2 separate regions of the Homo sapiens genome follow, and region 2 is linked to region 1. Evidence: fine-mapped QTL for protein levels in blood plasma. A gene starts in region 1. The other region holds a variant in brackets. All regions are shown on one strand. Distances are between the middles of the regions.

Evidence for each region. PIP is the posterior inclusion probability: the model's chance that the variant is causal. Protein levels are from antibody-based Olink assays in UK Biobank. Linkage for the fine-mapping came from a reference panel and not from the study's own genotypes, which makes the PIPs less certain.
Region 2: its variant is fine-mapped to the plasma level of the PON1 protein (UK Biobank, PIP above 0.99). The variant lies in the coding sequence of PON1. If it changes the protein, the assay may bind it differently, which can mimic a change of level.

What each region holds. Positions count from the first base shown.
Region 1 is chr7:95,322,001-95,326,402 of GRCh38, reverse strand. PON1 (paraoxonase 1) reads left to right here and starts at 1,871. Exons shown (of 9, transcript NM_000446.7): 1 at 1,871-2,001. The coding sequence starts at 1,928. RefSeq lists a silencer at 1,748-1,927.
Region 2 is chr7:95,306,264-95,310,655 of GRCh38, reverse strand. PON1 (paraoxonase 1) reads left to right here. Exons shown (of 9, transcript NM_000446.7): 6 at 2,445-2,645; 7 at 4,290-4,371. Among named protein-coding and RNA genes, the nearest start is that of PON1, 16 kb to the left of the region's middle. The variant C/T (reference allele first, on the strand shown) is at 2,549.

The DNA.
Region 1 (4,402 bases):
ACAAAATAGAGCCTATAGGACTGACTGATCTGTTTGGTGCAAGAGGGTGTGAGGAAAAGAGATGGATGAAAGAAGATATGTAGATTTTGGACTTGAGCAACTGGATGGTAGTGATGCCATTTATTGAAGTGTGAGTTTGGGCAGGGGGGATTAAGAGTTTTCCTTTGGACACATTTTGAAAAGACTGTTAAACACCCCAGTGGGCATGTCAACCAGGTAGCCTGCTGGGCCCTGCCCAAATTCCTTATGCACTGTTTATGAGCATAAGAAAATGATTGTTTGGTTTAGCAGCTAACCTTGTGAAATATCTCCAATCTTCCATTCTCACCTTAACCCATTCTAATATGGTTTGTGTTCTTTTGACTCGTGTAGAATTTGTTCTTATTAAACCACCTATTGTATCCATGTTATCTAATTCAGTAGTTACTTCTCTGCCATAAGCATACTCAACTCATAGCCACATTGGACACAGATCATCATTCCCCCTCTTTTCGAATACTCTTCTCTTTTGGATTCATTGGTTCTACTTCTTAGGTAGATTCTTCTGCTCCACCTGGTGTTAACCAGGGTGGCTTAGCCAGTGGTATTCAGTTGGTGGCCAGGCTGTGGTGGCTGGGCTTGTCTAATAGCCCACTTCATTCATTTCTGCTTCCTTGGTGCCGATGGTTAAGAGGTTGGCTTCAGCTGACCACTTTCCCTCTCCATATGTTCATGGCCTTTCATGTGAATGCTCCAGTGGAGTGGTCAGGTTTTTTACATAGTAGCTCAAGGCTTAAGAGCAAGTGTTCAGAAGGAGCAGAGAGAGAGGGCAGTAGTTACAATGTGAGGCCAAAGAAGCTTCCCCCCAGAAAGCTAAAGGTGATAAGTAAAGCATGTTGGTATTGGCTGGCAATATTCCACAAGAGATGAAAGGACAGATATTGCAGAAGAGAGAAGGTATAACTGGGACCAAAAGCCTTGAGAAGGAAAGAGACATGGAGCAAATCATTCACAGTAACAGCAGACAGCAGAGAAGAGAGACATGGTTGTACAGAGGCACCTCCTTTGGGTCTTTACTCAAATGCCCCATTATCAGTGAGAACTTCTCTGACTGCTATTCTTCAGCAGAGGGTATTCCTTATCCCCTTTCTTGCTTTATGTGTTTTCTCCATAACATATGTGCATATCCATAACACACACATGCATCACCTAGAGCATTATATATGCCACAGTGACATGTTTTGCTGATTTCTCAATTGACTCCCCCCATTGGAATGAACGTAAGCTTGAGGAAGACGTTTTGTCCTGTTCTGTAGCATCTAGAACAGCGCCTGGCACATAGTAGGTACTCAATAAATGCCAGCTGCATGAGGAAATGAATGAGCTGTGTGGGGGATGTACTTGAGTGAACTCTAAAGTCAGAGTGGTGTTGAGAGAAAAATGCTTGAAATCCAGATGTTGGAAGGTGACACAGAGTAGTAGCCTGGTGAGAACAGTTAGATCTTAGGGGTTCCTACTACAGCCCTCCCTTCCGCACCTTTTTGGCTGTCACCATGATCAAGCTACTGAATCTCTCTGAGACGCAAGGACCGGGATGGCACAAAGTGAGTGCTCACCAAAGCTTGACTGTCCTTTCCCATGGCAATTTACTTCAGCTTGTTTGATTTCCCCTCCCCGACTGGACTAGGCACCTATTCTCTGTCTTCTCTCTTTACAGTTGGAAGGAGCAAAATGGGACTTTTGGCTGAAAGTGCTGAGCTCCTGCGGTGGGGGCTGACCGCAAGCCACGCCTTCTGTGCACCTGGTCGGCCCAGCTAGCTGCCGACCCGGCGGGGAGGGGCGGGGCGGGCCAATCGGCGCTGCCCCAGCAGGGCTGCGGCTGCAGGCAGGCAGAGCCTCCTAGCCCGTCGGTGTCTGCGCCCATCGATCCCTTTGTCTATCCCCGACCATGGCGAAGCTGATTGCGCTCACCCTCTTGGGGATGGGACTGGCACTCTTCAGGAACCACCAGTCTTCTTACCAGTAAGTTGGGTTGTGGTGAGGGCTGCAGCCTTCGTCCTCCTCACTCCCTGCCAGCTCCACGAGCCCCCAGAAAGTTGGGTCCAGGCTGTTAACAGAACATTTACAAGCAGGTGCTAGATGCACACTCTGCGGGGGTTTCATAAATGTTTGTCCAGCCGTCATGTGTCACTTGAAAACAAACTCTTGCTCATGGCCTGAGACATGGGATAAGGAGGCAATTGCCAGGGGTGTGAGTGCCCAGGTTGTCAGCATACACGAATTAATTTTTCATGAAGATTTGTGTGCCCTGGCTACAGATTCACTTCTCAACCTGGAAAGAAACAAACTAACCTGGCTGGGGGTTCTCCTGATATTTTGTGTATTAGAGAAAGGAGCCCCTGTCGCTTCTGCGCCTTGACTGCCTGGCCATGGCAAACCTTCCAGGCTTGAAGATTCTCAAATTGAGGCTACTGAGGGCCACAGCAAAACTGCGTGTGGACCCGAGCAGGTGGAGCTAACGTGTGCTGTGATGGTTCGCTTCAGTGGGGGCAGGCGGGGAAGAGGGAACCCTGGAGCCAGCATCTGATGTCCTGGGGTTTAGCTCTGCCCCATGAGTATGCGATTTGGGCAAATCACTTTACATCTCTAACCTTAGCTGCTTCAGTAAACTGGAAATAGTAATACACACTGCCTGCGACAGAGTAGCTATTCAATAAATGTTAGTTCCCTGCTTCCCTTTAAAGTATTTAATAAAGGGTTAAGTGCTATACAAGGGGGGTGGGGATATTTTAAGAATGTATCAAAAGTTTCATAACTTTTAACAGGAGTTCAAAGTCTACAGATCATCCTAGTCTCTAAGGCTTAGTCAACAATGCCTTATTTACTTTAAAGTAAAACCTAATAAAAATTAAATATAAAAAAATTATATGAGCTTATGGACTAATTAGAAGCTTACATTCAGAATGGGTTTTTACTATTTATTGTGGATGTTTTTCTAATTTTTTTAAGTTACAGAGTGCAGAAAAAAAGTAAGAAGCAGTTGGTATTCTTGGCTTTTAAATCATGTAAAAATTACAGTTTGTGAGTTTTTATTAATCACAGTGCTGGTGGCTGCCAAAGGAGATTATAGGTATAGATAAAAATATATAGATAAAGGATGGGTTGCTGAGCCTCCTGGAGTGACCCAGACAGAGGAAGGAAGGGAAATTTTACCCACTGTTGGAAACCCCTAAAACCTAGCTACTCAACTGGGTCTGGGGACCAGATGCCTGAGCATCACCTAGGGGCTCCCTGTACAGGCAGAATCTCAAGCCCTACCCCACACTATTGAATCAGAACCAGCGTCATGGAACAAACTCCCTGGGGGATTAGAGATCATGAATCTGCCCCAGGGAGAGAAGGCAAGAGATGATATCATGAGGCCTGCATCAGGAGCAAGCCAAATCCCCAGGATAGATGCATCCTTTTTTCTTCAGACTTGGAGTGTATGTGTGTGCGGCTCACAGGAAGCTATATATGCCTGGGCTGGAGGGAACTTAAGGAAGCACACAAGGGATGCCTCAAGAGATTTCTGAGTTTCCCAGGTGGGAGCAGTACAGAGAAAAGAACTGAGAGAGTTCCCCTAGACCACGAGTCTCCCACCCACGAGTCTCCCACCTTTGTAGTCGGCTGTATGTGCCGCACAAGTCCAGGGAATGCCTTGGATGATGGTAGAAACAGCTCCCCTCCCCTACCCCAACTTGGGCTATGGAATGTTGCAGCATCTGTATGGCAACTTCCTTGTCCCTACATTGCTAATTGCAATACGTGAGTCCACTGAGTTTCCCTTCTCAGAAGGAAACCACAAAGCTAACGTTGGGCCTCTCGATGCATTTCTGCCATTCCATGCTTACTGTAGGCAACACACAGTTGTGGGAAGAGAGTAGTTGTGGATTCCTGATGACCTGGGTTAGATATCATTTCTGCAACTTTCAAGTTATTTTACCACTTTATTCCAGAAAAGTTCCAGCCAGTTTCTCCACCCGAAAATTAGGGGATAATAATACATATTACAGCATATATATATATATATACACACACACACACACACACATACATATATTTATATTTATATAAAACATATAAATAAAACTAAGTATATATATATATATAAAAATCAGGCATATAGCAGATGTCCTGTAAACGTTAGCTTTTATAGCTGTCATATGTGATCTCAAAAATATAGAGTGATACTTGAATATGTATTATAATCATACTTCATTGAAAGTCTGAGATAAGGACAAATAATCCTCCAACCCTCCAGTCTCCCCTATGAATGCAACCAACACCATCTTCTCAGTCTGATGTACTTGCCTAGTATCTCCACAAAACACTTCAGTGGACATCTGCAGAGTACCTTCTCTTTGCAAACGTTGTGTTTCTG
Region 2 (4,392 bases), 16 kb after region 1:
AGTGTGCACTCTGTGTTACCAGGACCCCTTCCTCTTCTTTCTTATCTGGTGGTTTGAGGATGAGGAAAATGAGATTGGAGAGAAATTGAGTTACTGGATGAAGGCCAATCAACTCACTAGTGGCCAAGTAGGAACCCCAGCTCAGGTCATCTTCTGCCCCATCAAGATGAATAAAAGTTCAGAGAACAGCTTTTGGTGGAAGAGTTTATTCGTGCATTTATTTAACAAATATATTTTGGAGAGAGAATAAGGTCACTGAGTGGAGAATGTGAGGAACACCAAGATTTAAAGTAGAGAACAGTATGTAGAATGGAGAAGCTGGGCAAATGATAACACTAATAAATGAGCTTTCTCTGTAAGTCAGGTGCTACACTAACTAATTCAAACAGATTATTTTATTGATGTTTTACAAATACCTTCTGAATTAGGTGTTATTATTATATCCATTTTGGATTTTTAAAAAGTTGAGGCCTGGACTAATTGTTAAGTTTCCCCAGATGACATCATCAGTAAATGGTGCAGCTGTGATTCTAATCCTGGTAACATGAGTTCAGAGCTGGTGCTTTAAACCTCTACAAAATAGTGAAAAAAATTATGTGTTTTAACATTTAATCTTGGAAATCTCAGATTGGTCTACGTTACCGGATTGGAGTATTTTTTTCTTGAGCCAGTTGCAAAAATATTGGTCTTAGGCAGCATTGGAGACTGAAAATAACCACGGTGCCGTAATTAACTAGAGTTCTGCTCTCTCAATCCAAGGATTAGCTGTGTGTATTTTCTTCTTTGTATTTTATGGTTTTTTATAACATTAATATTCCAATAACTAAATCTATTATAATTTAAACTTGTTATTATTCATATATCACAACTGTTATTATTGGTCATTTACTGTATGCCAGGCATGGTGTGAAGGCCTTTGCATTCATTATTTCATTGTATTCTTACTCTAGCCTTTCAAGGTATACAGAGAAAACAGAGGTTCAGAATAGTGGCTCAAAATTTAGTGACAATGCTGTGGCCCCACATTATAAGGATAGCAAGCAGTGTCAGGATGCAAATGAAGTCCATCAGATTTCAAAGCTATTACTCTATTACCCTTTAAAAATTTGTTATTTATTTACTTATTTTACTACACCTGGGGGTAGTAAATTTTCAGCAATAAAAAGCTATTGCTCTAAACCATTCCACTCTGCCCCTTTCTGTGAAAAACAGACAAATGATAGTCCAGCATACTAATTTAAGAAATTTACTTTTAAAAAAGAGAGAGTAAAATCAGATTGTAGATTTATGTCTGGAGCCCATCCAGACTAATCCTAAATTCCGAGACCTTTTTTTTTTTTTCATGTTGTAATAGTGGCTAGCATTGATTGAGGGTTTATTGAATGTCATGCTCCCTGCAAAGCACACAACAGGCATTGTCTCATTGTAATTCCCACTGCAACTCCACAAATTAAGATCCTGACCCTTAGTTTTCTACTAATGAGCTGTATGATTTTGAGAATATCATTTAACCTCTCTTTACAGATGAGAAAACTGAGGCTCTGCATGCCTGTCTAACTTGCCTGAGAGCTCAGAGCTGCGTCAGAGCTGATGCGCTGGCCATGACGCCTCTGCAATAGAGCAGAGATAATTTTCTCCCAGATCATGCCCTGGGGAACTTCCATCACCTCAATCAGCAAAGAATGACTCACTTATGTGTTCCCTATTGTATCCATTAAAGCAGAAAAATAGACTCATATATCTTACATTTTCAGTAACAGAGAATCCTAATCAGAAAGGAAAAAAAAAAAGCCATAGCATTCTATTTCTGAGCATTCTTGTTCATGGACATTTCATTCAGTTTAGAATCACGAAATCTTAAGGCTGGAAGATCAACCAGTCTATCATCCTGCTTTCACAGATAAGAAAACTGAGGTCCTGACATGTGAAAAGATTGATTTTTCTTAGATCACACAGCTAATAGTAGCAGAGCTTAAACTAAAATGCAAGTATCCAGGCTGCTGGTTCAGCATTTTTTCAATTTCTTATGGGAGTTAGTTCTATGTGAGCCCAGATATGTGAGCACATTTTTGCCCTGACAATGATTTCTGGCTTAATTTAATTTCTACTGAATTTAGTGTATTTACACACAGACACACACAGATACACACACACACACACACACACACACACACACACACGACGTAACACTATTTTAAGATACATATAATAGGATTTTTATGTTACAGTGCTATAATCACCTCCTCAGATTTCTTAGACCAATGATTGTCTAAGGATTGTATCGGCAGGACTAATTTCATATTAATTGTGTTCCATTATAGCTAGCACGAAGGCTCCATCCCACATCTTGATTTTAGGAATAGACAGTGAGGAATGCCAGTTAATAATCCTGTAATGTTCAATACCTTCACCTTATATATTATGTGTGTATGTTTTAATTGCAGTTTGAATGATATTGTTGCTGTGGGACCTGAGCACTTTTATGGCACAAATGATCACTATTTTCTTGACCCCTACTTACAATCCTGGGAGATGTATTTGGGTTTAG[C/T]GTGGTCGTATGTTGTCTACTATAGTCCAAGTGAAGTTCGAGTGGTGGCAGAAGGATTTGATTTTGCTAATGGAATCAACATTTCACCCGATGGCAAGTATGTGAACTCTCTGAAATGTAGTGGATTTACTCAGATTCTCAGGAGATATCTTGGAATATATTCTTTTTTTAAGTAATATGATACATTTTAACATGTTACCCTAGTGAGATAAAATTAGGAAAAATGTAAAATGTCTTAATTTTTCAGGGGGTGAAATTTATCAAATCAAAAATTTCATTGTGAAGGCATACTGGTTTTATTTCCTTTTTGGAAAGAAAGTACATTTTAAGAGGGGGAACTGTGATGAAGATTTGATATGTCTGAATAGCTTTGTTTTGAGTAAAGATGTGAGTGTATAATGAGTTGAATAGTATGCAGGTATAGATACGTCAGTAGTGCAGGTTTATGACAAGATGAGGAATTTGTACCAAAATGTAAATCAAGGCAATACTTCCTTCATCAAGAAAGTATTACTGTGAAAAACAAGTCAGTTTAACTAAGCAGTGTGCTTAGTGATGTATTTGATTTATAATGTTATCTCATGGTGAGCTATAACAAACAATTTGCAAACCAACATTGGTCTGGAGACTGCATTTTGGGTAGCATTGGTATATACATGAAATATCTATATCCATCCACATATATGCCCTTTCTCATCTTGTGTCATCATCAAGGATTTTAGAGTCCGTAACATATGCTTAGAGAAAGCAACAGGGGCCAGGTGTGGTGGTTCATGCCTGTAATCCTAGCACTTCGGGAGGCCAAGGTGGGTGGATCACCTGAGGTCATAGACCAGCCTGGCCATCATGGCGAAACCCCATCTCTACTAAAAATACAAAAATTAGCCAGGCGTGGTGGCGCACTCCTGTAATCCCAGCTACCAGGGAGGCCAGGCAGGAGAATTGCTTGAACCTGGGAGGTGGAGGTTGCAGTGAGCTGAGATTGCACCACTGCACTCCAGCGTGGGTGACAGAGCAAGACTCTGTTTTTTTTTAAAAAAAAAAAAAAGAAAGAAAGAAAGAAAAGAAAAAGCAAGCAAGCAAGCAAGTGAGAGCAACAGGGACAGGGACAGCTTTTAATTATTCATATCATAGACCAGTTTTCAAAAAATAGAAGATAATTGAGCAGTAATTTCTTTTTTTTGTTGGGGGGATGCACAGTGCTTAGACTAACCCCAGATCTTTGTGGGGTATGACTAAAGCCACAGGGTCAGGACCACACTCAGGGCAGAAGAGGAGGAAGACTTCTCTTGATCCAAGCCAAGCAGCTTTTCTTCTCTCATATTTTCTCTGGATTAAAACAAGGGGCTGTTGTCCAAGGGCTTTCCTGCAACTTTCCCGAGAGAGAACTCACTAGCCCCTGAAATGCAGAACCTGGGCCTTGACACTAAATTGTCAAACCAAAAGAGAAACGCTGTAATGCATTTTACTCCCAGATACTAAAAGTTAGTGTTAGGGCTAAGTTCCTCCCATACTGATAAGGACAACTATGTCCCCTCCTTCAGAAACAACTTTTCAGAGATTAAACCCCTCTGTCACTGTAAACTCACTGAGTTCTTTCAGAATTTGGTGTGTTTGAGGTGGGTTCCATTTTCCATTCCTTAAGCAAAGTTCTTCCCTATGAATAGGTATTACAACTTCATCTTAATCTCTCAAGTTGTGTTACTTCTAGTACTTTGATGTAGCTCTTTCTTCTTTGAAGGTATGTCTATATAGCTGAGTTGCTGGCTCATAAGATTCATGTGTATGAAAAGCATGCTAATTGGACTTTAACTCCATTGAAGGTAAGACGTATTAACACTGTA